Homo sapiens: one gene and its partner. The protein of the gene in region 1 interacts with the protein of each later gene in a biochemical or structural test. Each region holds a gene or a part of one and is shown on either strand. Other genes may lie near its edges. The genes, in order: TSN and PPP1R15A.

The links.
Region 2: the proteins of TSN (region 1) and PPP1R15A form a complex in vitro, tested with the Homo sapiens proteins (one study listed by BioGRID).

The regions. Positions count from the first base shown.
Region 1 is NC_000002.12:121,749,943-121,759,890, reverse strand, and holds the start of TSN (translin), read right to left. Parts: upstream 4,241-9,948; 5' UTR 4,112-4,240; coding exon 4,046-4,111; exon of another isoform or gene 3,938-4,045; intron 2,652-3,937; coding exon 2,558-2,651; intron 1,182-2,557; coding exon 1,085-1,181; intron 1-1,084. UniProt on the Homo sapiens protein: DNA-binding protein that specifically recognizes consensus sequences at the breakpoint junctions in chromosomal translocations, mostly involving immunoglobulin (Ig)/T-cell receptor gene segments.
Region 2 is NC_000019.10:48,866,569-48,876,091, reverse strand, and holds PPP1R15A (protein phosphatase 1 regulatory subunit 15A), read right to left. Parts: upstream 3,672-9,523; 5' UTR 3,441-3,671; intron 2,868-3,440; 5' UTR 2,859-2,867; coding exon 1,194-2,858; intron 479-1,193; coding exon 119-478; 3' UTR 34-118; downstream 1-33. Other genes in the region: PLEKHA4 (pleckstrin homology domain-containing family A member 4), read left to right, coding at 8,472-8,555. UniProt on the Homo sapiens protein: Recruits the serine/threonine-protein phosphatase PPP1CA to prevents excessive phosphorylation of the translation initiation factor eIF-2A/EIF2S1, thereby reversing the shut-off of protein synthesis initiated by stress-inducible kinases and facilitating recovery of cells from stress.

The DNA of each region.
Region 1 (9,948 bases):
CTCTTGAAAAAACAAAAGCAATTCTTAGCTCCCAGAGGCAGCAGCCACTAGTGGTTTGTCAACCTCTCCCTTAAAAGAATATTCTCATAAGGTTATACTACCCACCCCCTGAAAATACTCATCCTATTTACTGCTGATATATACGTCTTAAAAGAACATCTTTTTCAGTAAGAAAATTAAAATAAGTAGAAACTTTTGATTCAGGTGCAGTTTTTCCCAGTTTAACACCTATGAAACCAGGAGACATTTCACAATCCATGTTTCACAAGTTGTTTTTTTTTTTTAGATGGAGTCTCACTCTGTTGCCCAGGCTGGAGTGCAATGGCACAATCTTGGCTCACTGCAACCTCCGCCTGCCTGGTTCAAGCGATTCTCCTGCCTCAGCCTCTGAAGTGGCTGGGGTTACAGGGATAAGCCACCACACCTGGCTAATTTTCGTATTTTTAGTAGAGACGGGGTTTCGCCATGCTAGCCAGGCTGTCTCAAACTCCTGACCTCAGGTGATCTGCCCACCTAGGCCTCCCAAAGTGCTAGGATTACAGGTGTGAGCCACCACGCCTGGCCCATGTTTCACATTTATGACTGGCAAAATTTTCCTTCCCTACTGGTACATAAAATAATGGTGTATCTTAAAATCAACAGTGTTGATTTTAATAAGAAAACATGGCATAAAATATTAGCTAATTACATCACTTGGCAGTGAAATTCAAGCTTCAAAGTAAAACTCGACTCCATATATATACTGCCACCTAATCTCATTATTTCACTAACTATAGTTCATCCAATTTCACAAGAAACTTGAATATAGCAAAAAGATATTCTCACTTTTGACCCTCATACCACATTTTCTTTTTAATTGCTTTTTCACTGCAAAAGTAATACATGTTCCTTAAGATTTAGACAGTAAAAAGAAGAAAAAAATAAAATCACCAATTTTTGTCATGACCATTATTAGTTCGGTTTTTTCTCTTTTTGTTACTTCTACACAGGATGTTTGCCTAGTTGTAAGCAATCATTTGGTACACATAATTTTTCTCCTTTTTTTTACTTAACATTATAAAATAATGCTATTTTTCTTACAAACCTGTAATACTGTTCAGCAGGAAATTTGGTCTTCAAAGATGTTAGATGTGTTTTTACTGTACCAAAATGTTCTCGAGCTTTCAAACACCTCTTTGGAACTAGTCACAAAAGATAACCAAATGAAAAACTTAACCAAATTTCAAATACAGTTCTTGCTTAATAATCTAAGTAATCTATCTGGAAATTAATCAACAAAAAAACCTCACAACTAACGTACACATCTGTGCTTTTCAACCTGGCTTTCAAAATATCATCCCCAGTTTCCCTACTAATTAGCTATACTGAAAAATAAACAACTTGCTAAAAGGGAATATATTAGGAGACACACTGGTAATTGGTTTGGTTGTCATAAATAACGTCATCCTTAAGGAGATGCACACCAGCTGCTATTCCTGTTCACTCCTCAGAGGATGCCTAAAATTGGATTGCTTCTTCCTCCCATATTTGGCAGAAAAAAGCCTTTACCAAGTATTCACAATCAGGATGACCAACTCCGTATCATTAAGAAAAATCACTTGCCTCTGGCACGTGTAAATGCATTATTATATCATTCTTGTATCTGAAAATATACTTCAGCTCCTTTAGCTGTGCTGGCAATACCTTACAATGAAGGTTCCATGTCTAAACTTGACATATTTTATTTTCATTCAAGAGGCTGATTATAAACACATTAATTTGAGAACATTTTATACTGTTAATCTCATATTAAAAGGTATTCAATCACTGAAAGGCTGGATTCAAATACACACAGGTGCATATACACACATACACACATACACACACACACACACAAAGGGCCAAATAAAAGTCACTAGATAACACAAAAGAGTTACAAACCCTTGGGCCAGGTGCAGTGGCTCACGCCTGTAATCCCAGCACTTTGAGAGGCCCAGCCAGGCGGATCATCTGAGGTCAGGAGTGCAAGACCAGCCTGGCCAACAAAGTGAAACCCCATCTCTAATAAAAATACCAAAAAAAAAAAAAGTAGCTGGGCGTGATGGCGGGCACCTGTAACACCAGCTACTCAGGAGGCTGAGGCAGGAGAATTGCTTGAACCCAGGAGGCGGAGGTTGCAGTGAGCTGAGATGGCACCACTGCACTCCAGCCTGGGCAACAAGAGTGAAACTCCGTCTCAGAAAAAAAAAAAATTAAAAAAATAATAATAAACCCTTTTCCCGCTTACCCTGAGAATACTGTGCTGGCAGAGAGCTGCACTTTTTTTTTCTAAACAGGAAATGGGTTAAGCAATTGTAATTATCATCAGTAGAATGCCCTCGCAATAGAAAACATCTCTGTTTAAACCATACTGTGTGGAAGTGGAAGAAAAATCAACCAAAATTATCAAATCACCTACTTCTTCAATTTTTACTCACCATAAAGCATGATAGCCATTTTTCATTATAAAATGTCTTCTGGATAGAAACTCTCCCTCTAAATAAGAGACTGATAATTGGATACAAAACAAAGAACTTACTGTCCTGAAACCCAGCACCCTGATGGACCCCTTGCAGTAGAGTTAAAATCTCTCGAGCTGTTTGTTCTAAACTCTGTACAACTTTTCTGATTTCCTAGAGAGAATTAAAAATAAAAATCAGATACTCAACAGAATCATTGTCATACACTCACACAAAACACATTAGATAGCTTATGTGATCTATCATAACCAAGTTTGAATCCTGACTTTTCCACTTATTTCCTCTGTAAGACTTCAAAAAGTCACTAAAAAGCCTTAGATTCCTCAGATACCCTTTAAAGAATAATAGCCACCCATTAAACCCAAGTATTCAATTGGGACATTATAATGGATGACGTGTGTGAACGCAACTTGCAAAATGAAGAGTTAAATGCAACACAAGAGTCGGGTATTTCTAATTCTTTTTTCTTTTTTTTTTTTTTTTTGAGACGGAGTCTCGCTCTGTCACCCAGGCTGGAGTGCAGTGGCGCGATCTCAGCTCACCGCAACCTCCGCCTCCCGGGTTCACGCCATTCTCCTGCTTCAGCCTCCCGAGTAGCTGGGATTACAGGTGTGCGCAACCATGCCCAGTTAATGTTCTTTTATATTTTTAGTAGAGACAGGGTTTCCCCATGTTGGCCAGGCTGGTCTCAAACTCCTTACCTCAGGTGATCTGGCCGCCTCGGCCTCCCAAAATGCTGGAATTACAGGCATGAGGCGCCGCTCCCCGCCTCTAATTCATTTTTAAAATATTCACTGAGCATACTTATGTGCGAGGCACTGTGTAAATACCGGGGAACCAAGCACACAATCCCTTCCCTCTGGCGGTTTAACATACAATGAGGGAGAAGATTTTTTTAAAATAATCAATATTACACACATTAAAAAAAGTTAATGTGCTACTAGAAAACATAACAGGAAATAGATCGCTTAGACTGTGACGCCAATGAGATAAATACGAGACAATCAGGAAAAGAACGGGAAAGAAGCAAATTCCAGGAAAAGCAAACAGGCAGGAAGCTATTTGGGGCACTAGAAGAGGTAAAGTGAACATCATACACAAAGACAGAGAGCATAAACGAGATTGAAGAGAAACCATGTGAGCCACAGTAGAGTCTGATTTTTTATCCTGTGTGGCATAGGAAATCACAGGAGAGTTTTAAGCAGATCACATGTGCTTTTAAGACACCAACAAAAATACACGAAACGCTCATTCGCTGAAGACCAGGTGCTAATCGAGCCTTCGATATAAACAAGTGCTGAAAAGAAGGAAAACTGACACAAACGAGGCAAGTGATGCTGAGAAGCTGAGACTCGAACACGGGGAATCAGGACAGAGCAGCAAAATTTTGGGCGGGGGCGGGGAGTGCCTAACCTAAAGCTAGAGGGGAAGCAACCCACCCTCGGAGGCGTCCCCACCGCCCGAGACTGAGCGACAGAGGAGGGCCGGGCGAAGTGGCCCAACTAGGCATGGAAAGGCAAAGGGAATGGGGAAGGGAGGGGGCTCGCCTCTCGGATGTCCTGCTCGGCAGCCAAAAAGCCCTGCAGCTCCACGAAGATCTCGCTCACAGACATGGCGCCGGCTGCACAACAATCAGCCAGTGTAGCAAGGGCGGCCAAGGAAGTGGACGCCGCAGGCAACCAGCGCAATCAATCGCAACGGCCGCCGCTACCGCCGCGTCCCCCCGGTCTTACGCCACGACCGTCGCTAGGGTCCTCCGAGGCTCGCGGCGCGCCGGAGGACGGGCTGTCCGCCGCGCTGCCTGAGGCGCCGTCCGCTGCGTTCGGAACCGAGGCGCGCGTCCAAAGGGCAGAGGAGAGGGAGAGTGGGCGGGGCCTCAGTCTGAGGCCTTCAGACAGGCATCGCCAGAAACAACCTGCGAAGGCGGCCCTCGGAGCACGTGGGCCTGAGGGAGGGCGGGGACGGGCGTGTAGGTGGTGCGGGCAAGTGGGGCTGGTTAGCTTATATGTGTGTATTTATTTCATACACAACAACAGTTGGAGGGAAATATTTGACAACGAAAGAGTATGCACAAAAAACAGGTGCAGAAGAATGTAGAGAGAGTTCAGCCTTCGTGAGAGAGTAGGGGGCCAGTGCATTTCCAAAAAAAAGGAAAATAAAAGTAACGTATGTAGGACTGTGAGTAGGGAATGGATTGGGAGCGAAAATTTTCTGTGTAGATCTTTTAATGTCTTCTCTGTATGGCTGTATTACCTATTTTTAAATTAAACGGCTTTTTTAAGCGTGTGCGGTGGGATGTTTCTCTTTCCACTCACACCTTGTCCTAATTCCCCTTCCATGCCCTATAACGGTTTCCCCTTTCATGCCCTATAACGGTTTCCCCTTTGTTCTTGAAGAGTTATTTCATACACACATACTGTGTGTGTGTTCTTGAACAGTTATTCCATACACAAATACAGTGTGTGTGTGTGTTGCACTCGCCAGATGAATTGGAATGATTCTTATCAACTAAATGATAATTTATTGCTTGCTTTGTTTCTGACATTATTCTAAACTCTTTACATGAAGGATCATATTTAATTCTCATTATATGAGAATAATTTCATGTCCATGAAGAAGACAGTAAGACCACTAGCACCTACATTTTTAAAAAACTATCGGCCGGGCGCAGTGGCTCACACCTGTAATCCCAACACTTTGGGAGGCCAAGGCGGGCAGATCACAAAGTCAGGAGTTCGAGACCAGCCTGACCAACATGGTGAAACTCCGTCTCTACTAAAGATACAAAAACTAGCCGGGCGTGGTGGCGCGCGCCTGTAATCCCGGCAACTCGGGAGACTGAGGCAGAAGAATCGCTTGAACCCGGGAGGCACAGGTTGCAGTTAGCCGAGATCACACCACTGCACTATAGCCTGGGCAACAGACTCCGTCTCAAAAAAAATAAAAAACCCTTTCTTATCTCGTGTTTGTTCTCCCAAAACCCATTCGTCTGTCCTAAAGAATCCTATTTGTTCTCATACAAACTTTCGTCACCTCTCCGTTTTACCTAGAGTTAGGCACACAAGCCACTAACTGGTTTTTTGTTTCTTTCTTTTCTTGTGTGGTTTTCGTTATTGTTGTTTTGTTCTGTTTCATTTTTTGGTCTCATTACGTTGCCCAGTCGGGTCTTGAACTCCTGGGCTCAAGAAATCCTCCTGCCTCAGCCTTTCAAAATGCTGGGATTACAGGTATCAACCACTGCGCCCAGACATAAACCTCTAACCATTTAGTAGGCTAGCTACTTATTTTGCTAGCTCCAGCATCCATGCAAATAAGCCTTTTTTGGGAGTGTCCTATAAAAAGTTTAATTAGACCCTATTAGTCGATGGTGTTGTTGAGTTCTTATATGCCCATGCTGATTTTCTGTTCCGTTAATCTGTCTTTTGTCAGTTTAATTTGCAGGCCCTGGCTGGGCATGGTGGCTCACACCTGTAATCCCACCACTTTAAGAGGCTAACGAGGAGGATCACTTGAGCCCAAGAGTTCGAGACCAGCCTGGGCAACATAGTGAGACCGCCATCTCTACAAAAAATGTTTTGAAAATTGGCTGAACATGGTAGCGCATGCCTGTGGTCCCAGCTACTTCAGAGGCTGAGGTGGGAGGATCACTTGAGCTCAGGATGCCACGGCTGCAGTGAGCCATGATTGTGCCACTGCACTCAAGCCTGGGTGACAGAGTGAGACCCTGCCTCAAATAAATAATTTTTTGGAGGCCCCCATAAACTGAACAAAATATAATAAAGAGAAAGCTTTTCCTTCCCAATACTAGCTTCATAAAGAACTGGAAAGTGTTCCCTTCTGGTCTATTATCTGGAAGAGCTTATGCAGATTGCTGTTTGTTCTTTAAGTAGTTGTAGAATTCTCTGCTGAAACCTTCTCCAACGAAACCTTCTTTGGAGATCTCTTTTGGGGAATTTTTATTGCAAATTCAATTTCCTAATAGTCATAGTGCTACTCAAAGTATCTTTTTCTTTAAGAGATGGGGTCTCGCTCTGTCAGCAGGTGATTCTTCTGCCTCAGCCTACCCAGTAGCTGGGACTATAGGCACATGCCACCACACCTGGCTAATTTTTGTCTTTTTTGGTAGAGATGGGGTCTGGCTATGTTGCCCAGGCTACAAAGTATCTATTTAATATTGGGTGAGCTATGGTAGCTGTGTTTTTTTAAAGGAATTGGTTCATTTAGTCTAAGTCATTTATTTGAATAGAGTTGTTTATAGTATTTCCTTATATTCTTTTGTCATCTTCAGGCTCTCTAGTGCCACCCTGTATTTCATTCCTGATAGAAAGAATTTATCCATTTTCTCTGTTTCTCTTTGTCAATCTTGCTGGAGGTTTATCCACTTTATTGATCTCTTAAAATAACTAGTTCTCTGTTTAATTTTTTTTTTTTTTTGAGATGGAGTCTCTGTCACTTGGGGTGGAGTGCAGTGACGTGATCTCGGCTCACTGCAACCTCCGCCTCCTGGGTTCATATGATTCTCCTGCCTCAGCCTCCCGAGTAACTGGGATTACAGGCGCGCTCCGCTGCACCCAGCTGATTTTTGTATTTTTAGTAGAGATGGGGTTTCACCATGTTGCCCGGGCCGGCCTTGAACTCCTGACCTCAGGTGACCCACCCACCTCAGCCTCCCAAAGTGCTGGGATTACAGGCATAAGCCACCATGCCCGATTCTGTTTCAATTCCATCAATTTCTACTCTTTATTATTTTCTTTTTTTTTTGAGACAGAGTCTCGCTCTGTCGCCCAGGCTGGAGTGCAGTGGCGCAATCTCGGCTCACTGCAAGCTCTGCCTCCCGGGTTCACGCCATTCTCCTGCCTCAGCCTCCTGAGTAGCTGGGACTACAGGCGCTCGCCACTGCACCCAACTAATTTTTTGTATTTTTAGTAGAGACAGGGTTTCACCTTGTTAGCCAGGATGGTCTCGATCTCCTGACCTCGTGATCTGCCCGCCTCGGCCTCCCAACGTGCTGGGATTACAGGTGTGAGCCACCGCACCCGGCCGTCTGCTCTTTATTATTTTCTTCTTTCTGCTCGTTTTGGTTTTATTTTACTCTTCTAGGTTCTTGAGATGGAGCTTAGATTATTAAGATTTTCCCACTTTTCTAATGGATGCATTTTAGTGCTGTTAACTTTCCCTCTGGGCACTGCTCTTAGCTGTGTACCACAAATTTTTGGTATGTTGTAGTTTCATTTTTATTTAGTTCAATGTATTTTTTAAATTTCTCTTGTGACTTCCTAATTGATTATCTAGAAGTATATGGTTTAATTTTCAAGTGTTTAGAGATTTTTCTGTTATTGTGTTATTGATTGCTAGTTTGAATCTATATAGTCAGAGAACGAGCTATGATTCAATTCTCGTAAATGTGTTAAGATTTTGTTTAAATAGTCCGGAATATGGTCTCTCTTAGTATATATTCCACAGGCAATTGAAAGGATCTGTTGTTGGGTGGAGTGGCAATTCGGCCCTTTTAGCTGTTGAGTTCTTCTATGCCCTGCTGATTTGTCTAGTTGTTCTATTAATTTCTTAAGGGATTTTCTACAGAATCAGTCATTTCATCTGTGAACAAATAGTTTTATTTCTTCATCCCAATCTATATACTTCCTATTTCCTTTTCCTGTCCTAATGCATTATATAGGACTTCCAGTAAGATATTGGATAGGAATGGAAAAAGGACATCCTTGCCTTCTTCCCAACCTTAGAGCCAAAGTGTCCAGTTTCTCACCCTTAACTATGATGTTAGCTGTAGGGTGTTGTTGTTGTTGTTATTATTGTTTGTTTGTTTGTTAGTTTTTAGAGGTAGGGTCTTACTTTATCACCCAGGCTGAAGTACAGTGGTATGATCATAGCTCACTGCAGCCTTGAACTCCTGAGCTCAATTGATCCTCCTGCCTCAGCTTCCAGAGTAGTGGGGACTACAGGTATGCACCACCATGCTTTAATAATTTTTTTTTAATTTTTTCGTAGACATGGGGTCTGGTCATGTTGCTCAGGCTAGTCTTGAACTCCTGGCCTCAAGGGATCCTCCTGCCTACGCCTCCCAAAGTGCTGGAATTATAGGCGTGAGCCACTGTGCCTGGCCTTGTTTTGGTTTTGGTTTTTTAAGAGACATGGTCTTGCTCTGTCACCCAGGCTGGAGTGCAATGACATGACCACAGCTCACTGCAGCCTTAACCTACTGGGCTCAAGCAATCTTCCCACCTCAGCCTCCCAAGTAGCTGGGACTATAGGTGTGTGTCATCCAGCCTAGCTAAATTTTTTTTATTTTTGGTAGAGATAGAATCTCACTGTGTTGCTCAGGCTGGTCCTGAACTCCTGGGCTCAAGCAGTTCTCTTGCTTTGGCCTCCCAACGTGGTGGGATTACAGGCATGAGCCACTGCACCTGGCCTTATTCTATCAATTGTCAATAGAGGGGTCTCTAACTATAATTATAGATTTTTTTTTTTTTTTTGAGACGGAGTCTCACTCTGTCACCAGGCTGGAGTGTAGTGGCACAATATCTACTCACTGCAACCTCCGCCTCCTGGGTTCAAGCAATTCTCCTGCCTCAGCCTCCCAAGTAGCTGGGACTACAGGTGCACACCACCACGCCCAGCTAATTTTTGTATTTTTAGTAGAGACGGGGTTTTACCATATTGACCAGACTGGTCTCGATCTCTTGACCTCGTGATCCACCCGCCTCAGTCTCCCAAAGTGTTGGGATTACAGGCATGAGCCACAGCACCAGGCCATAGATTTCTTTATTTCCCCTCTCAGTTCTGTCAGTTTTTGTTTCACAAATTTGCAACTCTGTTGCTTGCTACATACACATTTAGGATTATTATGTCTTCTTAGTGGATAGACTTTTTATGATTATATGTTCCTCTCTGTCACTCATCATTTTTTTCTACTGGTCTATTTTATCTGATATTTTTATAGCCACTCTTGCTTTCCTTTTATTATTTGGATTATATATGTTTTATCATTTTTTAATTTCAACCTGCCTCTATCATTGCCTATATCTTTATATTTGAAGTGAATTTCTTCCAGATAGGATATAGTTGGGTCTTTTTTGGAAAATTAACTCACCAATCTCTGTCCTTCAATTGGTATATTTAAACCATTTATATTTGATGTTATTATTGACCTGTTAGCACTTAAGTCTGCCATTTTGGTTTTTTGCTTTCTGTTTGTTCTCTGTTTTTTATTTCTGTTTTCTTTTTCTGCCTTCCTGTGAACATTTTTAAGAATTCCACTTTGCACTGTTTTTGAAAAGATCTCTTTGCATAGCTTTGTGGTTACTCTAAATGTTGCGTGTGTGTGTTTGTGTGTGTGTGTGTGTGTGTGTGTGTGTGTGTAGACATTTATCACTGTCTACTGGTATTATCATTTTATTAGCTCAAGTGAAATATAGAAACTTCATTTCCCTAT
Region 2 (9,523 bases), on another chromosome or scaffold:
TGTCAGTTTCTGACACATACAGACGCTGCTCGCTACAAATCAAAAGGCTTTATTCCTTATATAAACCCACACTTAGAAAAAATAAATAGTTAATAAATTATAGGCAAACCAGTTGGTCTCAGCCACGCCTCCCACTGAGGTCCAGGGCAGCCGCTGCAGCAGCAGACGAGCGGGAAGGTGTGGCCACAGCTTGGCTCAAGGGCGTGGTCTGGACTGGGGACGAAGGGACAGAGGAGGAAGGCAAGGTCTGGGTGAGGGCAGGGATGGGGGCTAAAGGTGGGTTCCTGAGGCGTGCCCAGGCTCTGGCCCGGGCAGCAGGGGTGAGGCAGGGGCTCAGCTCCTCCTGGGCCTGGGTGATGCGGCGTGCGAAGCGGCTGCGATCCCGAGCAAGCTGCTCCCAGGGGCCCTGGCGGGCGGCCTGGGCCGGCCCTGCCCAGACAGCCAGGAAATGGACAGTGACCTTCTCGGAGAAGCGCACCTGCGGGCAGACATGGGGACACAGGCAGGAGATGCACACAGCCACGGGAATCCGGATGGGGAGGGCGGGGAAGAGAGAGAGAGAAGCAAACAAAAATTAGTTATTACACAAAAATGCTTTCTATCTGGCTAGTCACTTGCCTGTCACTGTCACGGGATTCTCTATCTATCTGACTCACTGAAGGAAGAGGTGGTTTCCTGGGGCTGCTGTGAGCCACAGCTGCTCCCTCCTCCCCCAGGGGCCTGGCCTCTTACAAGGGATTGCGTGACAGCGTACACAGCCTTCTCCATGGAGATGACATGCAACCCTCTGCAACATACAGGGACCCAGAAGTCTCGGCCCCCAGCCCCCTTTCTTTCTAAGACTCAAGAATCTGGGCTCTCAGCCAGATGTGGTAGCTCACGCCTGTAATCCCAGCACTTTGGGAGGCTGAGATGGGTGGATCACGTGATGTCAGGAGTTTGAGACCAGCCTGGCCAACATGGCAAAACCCCCGTCTCTACTAAAAATACAAAAAAAATTAGCTGGGTGTGGTGTCATGCGCCTGTAATCCCAGATACTCTGGAGGCTGAGGCACGAGAATCGCCTGAACTTGGGCGGCAGAGGTTGGCAGTGAGCCAAGATCATGCCGCTGCACTCCAGCCTGGGTGACAGCCCAAGACTCCAACTCAATTAAAAAAAAAAAAAAAATAGAATCTGGGCTCTCAGCACCTACCTTTCTGGCCTTTAGGGGAGTCTCAGGGTCCGGATCATGAGTAGGGGTTTCTGGGCGCTTGAGCCGCCTTTGCAGTCGGAGGGGCAGCCTAGGAGGAGCCCAGGGAGGCGGTGGCTTCTCTCCAGGTACATAGATGGCCACTCGGAAGGGGCAGGGCTCAGCTTCTCCCCAGTCCTCAGCAGCTTCCTCTTCCTCTGTCTCTTTTCCAGGTCGATATCCCCAGCCCCTGAAGTGGGCCCTCTGGTCCGGGTGGGAGGGATGTGGGTCTGACTCAGCTTCTCCCAAGGCTGCTTCTGAATCATCTTCCTTATCCTCACTATCCACATCCTCATCTTCCTCCTCCTCCGTGTCCTCTCCTGGCCGATACACCCAGGCCTTCAAGAAAGCACTTGCAGGGGGTGTGGAAGCAGAAGTCTCAGCTTCTCTTTCATCCTCGGCTGATCCTGTATCACTGTCCTCATCTTCCTCCTCCTCTGTGTCCTCTCCTGGCTGATAGACCCAGGACTTCAAGAAGACACCTGTAGCAGGAGTGGAAGAGGAAGCCTCAGCTTCTCCCTCTTCCTCATCTGATCCAGAGTCACTGTCCTCATCTTCTTCCTCATCTTCCTCTTCCTCTGTGTCCTCTCCTGGCCAATACACCCAGGCCTTCAGGAAGGCACTTGGTGGGGGGATGCAGGGAGGACACTCAGCTTCTCCATCCTTCTCAGCTGCCCCCAAAGCCTTGACCTCACCCTCCTCTTCATCACTGGGTTGGCACCACCAGGACTTGAGCTGGGGCCTCTGGGCTGGGGCTGAGGATTGCGGCCCTGGGGCAGCTTCTCCTTTCCCAGTTTCTTTGTGTGCCTTTTCCTCCTTCTCCTCGGACGCCTCTCCTGAACGATACTCCCAGGACCTGGGGTCGGAGCCTGAAGATCGGGGGGACACGGAGGTCTTCCTGGCTCCTTTACTTCTTTCTGTTCTTTTATCCTCCGTGGCTTGATTCTCTTCCTCCCCTGGGCAAGACACCCAAGTGCTGGGCTTGGATCCTGGAGACAAGGCAGAAGTAGAGGTTCTGTGAGCTTCTTTCTTTACAGCTTCTTCATCGTCCTCCTCCTCCACGGCTGGACAACACTCCCGGTGTGATGGTGGATAAGAGAACTTGTTAACTCCCTCCTCTTCAGCAACTCCCTCTTCCTCGGCTTTCTCCTCCCCTGGGTTCTTATCAGAACCTTGCAGTGTCCTTATCAGAAGGCTGGGAGACAGGGGAGCACGCTGGCCATCTGCAAATTGACTTCCCTGCCCTCTAGGGACACTGGTTGCCTCTCGCTCACCATACATGCCATCATCATCATCCAAAAGTCCCCAGGCTTCAGGAAGGGAACTGCTGGTTTTCAGCCCCAGTGTTTCTCTGTCCTCTCCAGGGCCTCCACTGTCTTCAGCCTCCTCTTCAGGGCGTCTGCCCCAAGGGGTATGGGGGATTGCCAGAGGAGTCCTAGCTTCTCCCTCCAGGCCAGCTTCTACCAGAGCTGCTCCTTTTACTGCTTCCACCAGCCAGGGCTCTAGAGGTCCCAGGCCCCTCAGGCGGCTCCAGGCGCGGCTGAGGAGGCCCATCACTGGGGACAGGAGGAAGAAAGGGTGGGCATCCCTCCACGGGGTAGCCTGATGGGGTGCTTGGCCTGGGGCCATGTGTCTGGGCTGGAAAAGGGGGAGAAAAAAATAAAGTTTAGGGGCCATTTAGAGGATGGCATCCGGGCGTGACTATGAGTCATAGCAACGGAAATAGTAACACAACTATTGTAAATAGCAACGCGAGAGTCCCAAATTCCTTTCTGATCTCGGCCACGCCCATCTCTGTCCCTTGGCTCTGTTCTTATCTCTCAATAGCCAGGAGTCTGAGCCCCTAGTTCTGCCTTAGATCCAAGGGTCCAAGCCCCCAGCCCTCTCTTTCTTCAGACGCAGAACTCCCAGTCCCAAGAACCAAGAACAAAAGTCTTTACTTGCTTCCCTTGGCGACAAAGTCATAGTCCCTAGCTCTCTCATTCTGCTGAAGATTGACAAATCAAACCCTCACACCCTCCTCCCTCGCAGACTGAAACATTCTGACCCGACCCCCTACTTGGCAGATGATTCCTTCACGGGGGACCCAAGAATCTGGCTTCCAGATCCCTCCTCCCTCAGGCTCAGGACTCCAGGCTCCCAACCCCTTCTCCTTTCTAAATCCGGGCCCCCAGCCCCGTGGGGACCCAGGCGTTCCGACCCCTTACTCACCGGCTGGGAGCTGCGCGTCACCCCGGGGGCAGGAGCGCCGGTTCGGTCTGCCAGAAGCGATCACAGGTCCGGACGGTTAGGGAGGCCAGCGCGTTCATCTCACCCTCAGGCGTCGGGCTCCGAGTAACTCAGAGTATCTCCGGCTGCCTCAAGTGCCGTGGCGACAAGCGGGCGCGGGGTCGTGCAGCGTCTTGCATAAGATCAACAACTGGGATGGGAACCGATAAGAGCAACGAACACAATGGCCACTAGGCTTTTATAGCCTACCGCGCCCGGCGTGCTGACGTCACGAAGAGAGGCGGGGTTTCGAGACCGCAACCCGAAGGGTGGGAAGTGGAAGTAAGACAGGACTTCTCGCGGAGATTCCAGCTTTTGCAACGTCACGGCGGAGTTTCCGAGCGTGACCACGCCCCTCCAACAAACGAACTGTCAATCAAATGCGTGGCCCTGCTTCAACAGCGAGCCAGTTCTCTCTCAGCTCAGGGTCAATGCCTTCCCACCCCAATTTATTTATTTATTTAGTTAGTTATTTTGAGGCGGAGTTTTGCTCTTGTTGCTCAGGCTGGAATGCAAAGGGGCGATCTCGGCTCACCGCAACCTCCGCCTTCGGGGTTCAAGCGATTCTCCTGCCTCAGCATCCCGAGTATCTGGGATTGCAGGCATGTGCCGCCACGCCCGGCTAATTTTGTATTTGTTTAGTAGAGACGTAGTTTCTCCATGTTGGTCAGGCTGGTCTGGAACTCCCGACGTCAGGGGATCCTCCCGCCTTGGCCTCCCAAAGTGCTGGGATTGCAGGCATGTGCCGCCACGCCCGGCTAATTTTGTATTTGTTTAGTAGAGACGTAGTTTCTCCATGTTGGTCAGGCTGGTCTGGAACTCCCGACGTCAGGGGATCCTCCCGCCTTGGCCTCCCAAAGTGCTGGGATTACAGGCGTGAGTCACCGCGCCCGGCCTATTTATTTATTTATTTATTCATTATTTATTTTTCTGAGACGGGATTTCACCATGTTTGCTAGGCTGGTCTCGAACTCCTGACCTCAGGTGTTCTGCCTGCCTTGGCCTCCCAAAGTGCTGGGATTGCAGGCGTGAGCCACCACTCCAGGCCTATTTATTTATTTGTTATTTTTTATTTTTTTATTTTTTTTTGAGATGGAGTCTCGCTCTGTCACCGAGGCTGGAGTGCAATGGCGTGATCTCGGCTCACTGCAACCTCCATCTTCCGGGTTCAAGCGATTCTCCCTCTTCAGCCTCCGAGTAGCTGGGATTACAGGCACGCACTACCACACTCAGCTAATTTTTTGTATTTTTAGTAGAGACAGTGTTTCGCCATGTTGCCCAGGCTGTTCTCGAACTCCTGAGCTCAGGCAGTCTGCCTGCCTCGGCTTCCCAAAGTGTTAGGATTATAGGCGTGAGCTACTGCACCCAGCCTATTTATTTTTTGAGTAGGCGTCTCACTCTGTCGCCCAGGCTGGAGTTCAGTGGCGCCATCTCGGTTCACTGCAACCTCCACCTCCTGGGTTCCAGCGATTCTCCTGCCTGAGCCTCTGGAGTAGCTGGGATTACAGGCATGTGCCACAATGCCTGGGTAATTTTTGTATTTTTAGTAGAGACAGTGTTTCGCCATGTTGACCAGGCAGGTCTTTTTTTTTTTTTTTTTTTTTGAGACGGAGTCTTGCTCTGTCGCCCAGGCTGGAGTGCAGTGGCACGATCTTGGCTCACTGCAAGCTCCTCCTCCCTGGTTCTCGCCATTCTCCTGCCTCAGCCTCCCTAGTAGCTGGGACTACAGGTGCCCACCACCACGCCCGGCTAATTTTTTTTGTATTCTTAGTAGAGACGGGGTTTTTCACCGTGTTAACCAGGATGGTCTCGATCTCCTGACCTTGTGATCCACCCGCCTCGGCCTCCCAAAGTGCTGGGATTACAGGTGTGAGCCACCGCACCCGGCCGACCAGGCTGGTCTTGAACTCCTGACCTCAGGTGATCTGCCCGCCTTGGCTTCCCAAAGTGCTGGAATTACAGTTGTGATCCACTGTGCCTGGCCTCCTACCCCAATTTAGCCCACAGGCCCCAGCCTAGAGTCTCCCATTTTCTTTTTTTTTTCTTTTCTTTCTTTTTTCTTTTTCTTTCTTTTTTTTTTTTTTTTTTTGAGACGGTGTCTCACTCTGTCACCCAGGCTGGAGTGCAATGGCATGATCTTGGCTCACTGCAACCTCCGCCTCCCGGGTTCAAGCAATTCTCCTGCCTCAGCCTCCTGAGTAGTTGGGAGTACAGGAGCTTGCCACCACGCCTGGCTAGAGTCTCCTATTTTCACATGTGGTTGGTTTCCTCCCCGAGTGCGAGGGTGTCATTGTTCCCATTTCACAGATGGGGAAACAGGCTTGGAAATGAAGCCACTTGACCAAGATAGTCACAGCAGGGTCCAGATTCCTTGCAAATGAGAATGAGGATGTAAGCACTATGAGATCAGGCACTTTGCTGGGCTCAATGCTTTTCAAAAAAAAGTAATTAGGCTGAGCGCGGTGGCTCACGCCTGTAATCCTAGCACTTTGGGACGCTGAGGCAGGTGGATCATGAGGTCAGGAGATCAAGACCATCCTGGCTAACACGGTGAAACCCCGCCTCCACTAAAAATACAAAATAAATTAGCCGGGCGTGGTGGTGGGCACCTGTAGTCCCAGCTACTCGGGAGGCTGAGGCAGGAGAATGGCGTGAACCTGGGAGGCAGAGCTTGCAGTGAGCTGAGATCGTGCCACTGTACTCCAGCCTGGGCGACAGAGCGAGACTCCGTCTCAAAAAAATAATAATAATAATTAATTTAGGCCGGGTGCAGTGGCATGTGCCTGTAGTTCCAGCTACTCAGGAGGCTGAGTCAGGAGAATCGCTTGAACCCGGGAGGCGGAGGTTGCAGTGAGCCGAGATCACGCCACTGCACTCCAGCCTGGCGACAGAGCAAAACACCGCCTCAAAAAAAAAAAAAAAAGAAATTCATTTTCTAAATAGAGACAAGGTCTCGCTATGATGCCCAGGCTGGTGTTGAACTCCTGGTCTCAAGCGATCCTCCTGCCTTGGCCTCCCAAAGTGCTGGGATTACAGGCGTGAGCCATTGCACCCAGCCAGGGCTCACTGCTTTCTTCTCAGTGGCTGCAACAGACAGTGCCTGCACACAGTAGGTGCTCAACAGGTGCATGGTGAATGGCAGTTAAACCGAAAGCTCAGATTCCTTCCCGGTCACAGGCACAAGGCTCCACTCCTGGGTGTCATCTGCTTCAGACTTAGGCAGTAGCTCTGCCCCCACAAGCCGCGATTCTGCCTGGGTGGCACTCTTTGTGCGGGTGGGGGCGCTTCTGCTACAAGTTCCAGGCCCTGGGTGACAGTTCCAGCCCCCCGCTCTCCTCCCCTGCCTACGGATGCATAATCTTGTTCCTCAAAATATACCAAGGAATCATGTCTCTCTCCTGAGGGAGTTGTCCTCAGTCTAGAAGAGAATTCTCACCTGGATCTGAGGTGGAGGTTTGGAACTCTCCATTTCACCCTGCCCTACTGGGACCATCCCCTTTTCTCCCTAGGGGACCTGGACAAACCGTCCCTGGCCCCTTCCAAGCACAGCCATGTTTCCAGACCCCCAGCTCTTTCACGACTCAGGAGTCCTGATCCTAGCTCAGACCTTCTCGGGCACCCAGGAGTCTGGATCCCTAACCCATTCCCTCCAGGGCTTTGGAAATTTGAGTCCCCACCCCTTGCAGGACACAAGCCTCCTCCGTTTAGGACACCAGTGGCTCAGGCCCCCAACCACAGCAGCAAACCCACGGGGGCCCTGGAGTGCAGGCCTCAAGTCCAACTCTCCAAACACTGAGAAGTCCCAACCTTGGTCCTTAGGGGACCTGGGAATTGGGGGGCCCAAGCCCCTCCCTTCAGCTATGGGGGCAGCTGAGCCAGAGGTCAGGCTGTAGTGGGGAGGCCAGAAGGGGCGGGGACAGCCGGGATTGGGAGGGGAGAACAGCAGCGTGGGCGGCTGGCAGAGGCAGGGAAAGACCAGCAGAGAGGAAAGAGAAACTGGGAGAGGGAGGAAGGGAGAAAGTGAGAAGGGAAATCGGAAAGAGAAAAGGGAGGAAACGGCAGAGCCAGAGAGAAAGAGGAAGAGACTGAGTGTGAAGGAGAGAGGACACAGGGGATGACTGAGAGACAGAGAGAGAGAGAGAGAGAGAATGAGACAGAGACTTAAGGAAGAGACCCTGTGAGTCTGACAATAAAAGATTTGGACAGAAACAGAAAGATTGGAGAGAGAGAGAGAGGGAGAGAATGAGTGAGAGAGAGACTGGAAGAGACAGAGATCAGAGGGAGACACAGAAAGTGAGAGTGGGGAGAGAGGTAGTGTAAAAGGAAGAGAGAGAGAGAGAGACCGTAAGAGACAGGAGACAAAGAGACAAAAAGTGTGAGTGAGCAGGTGAGGAGAGAGATTGAGAACTATGAGAGACAGCAGCTAAGAGACAAAGGAGGCGGGAGACTGCCTAGGTGCCGCAGCACCCACACCGTCCTCTTGCCCCCCCGTCACTGGGACCCCAGAGCTGGGTAAGTTCCCTGGCTGGGCTGGGAGGGGCTCTCTGGGTTCACATTCCTGGTGCCGCAGGGCTTGGCTTGGGGAGTTGGCAGGGGTGGTTTGGGGGTGCATGTGGGAGGGCGGGAGACAGGTAGCCTGGGGCAGCCGGAAGGAGGCAGGGAATGGGGAGTCCCTAAGCACAGAGAGGGTCAAATTCCTGGCCTGAGTGCAGTGGGCAGGAATAAAGAAGCCCCTATTCTCTGGCCTGGGCTGCAGACAGCTGCCCCCTCCCGCAGCTGCCAGGGCCGCCTACCTCTCTTGGCACCACTCTTGGTATGTGGTCACGGGCCATGGCCTCCCCCAGCCCCCCAAGTCCCGAAACAACAGGCTCTTTCTCTGCAGCCTCCTCCGACCTCCAAGCCCCTGACCCCATCTCTGTCTCACACCCGTCACTGCAGAGACACAGCCCCTTTCTTTCTCTCCCCCAGCCCTTGATGGAGGGGAGCCGACCTCGCAGCAGCCTGAGCCTGGCCAGCAGCGCCTCCACCATCTCCTCGCTCAGCAGCCTGAGCCCCAAGGTTTGAGCTTCCTGGCGGGGATGGGGAGGAAGGTGGGGCTCTGGGCCGCCCATCCTTCTGTTTCCCCAAGGACTCTGGTTGTTAAGGACAAAGATCCTTAGCAACGGGGTCTGCCAGACATAGTAAGGTCCCAAATTGCCTACACACCGCAGCTAGGAATTCAGAGGCACTCCCAGCTCTGTCCCCACCCTTTGTATTTTCCTAATTCTAAACCAGAGTAACAACCTCCCTTGACCCTGGTTGCTAAGATAAAGCCGCTCCCCAGCCATGAGGCCCCTCGAGTTCTGAGAAGTAGTGGCTGCTCTTGATTAGTGCCAGAACTTGCTGTCCTATCTCTCGCCATCCAATCTACCCACTAATGAAATCCTATAAGGAGAGACCCTTCTCTGACAATAAGACCCAAGGGGCCTCCAGATACTTGCATCCCAAATCGGCATCCCAGCCAAAAGCTTAGGGAGACACTCATTTCTTTTTCCTCCTGCCGTTCCACACATATTGTTTCTCAAGTTCAGAGCCCAGAGATCTGATCTCAGCCTTGGTCAGTACCACCGCTTCCAAGGAAGGGCATATTGTCGGGACCTGGCTAAGGATGCCTGAGATATCTGTGGGCATCAGGAGATGAGGCTCCATCCGGGCAGGATGGAGGGATTTGAGGCTTCCTCTCCTTGTACTTGGTTGCTAAGGGGTGTGACCGCAGGGCACCAGGGCATCCTTTGATTCACTGGAGACTCAGCGTGAGAGTTCCCCCTGATTATGGGGCCCTCCCAGCCCATAGTCCCAGTTCAGATCCCAAAGGACCTACTACAGCTCTGGCTCTGGTGGCCAAGGGCATCTGCTTCTTGGCAGTGGATGCTTGATCCCCAAATTGCTTCCCTACAGCCTCTTCCTTGCCTCTGAACACCTCCCTCTGCCCATCAAAAAAAGAGTCTCGGCCCGGCGCAGTGGCTCACGCCTATAATCCCAGCACT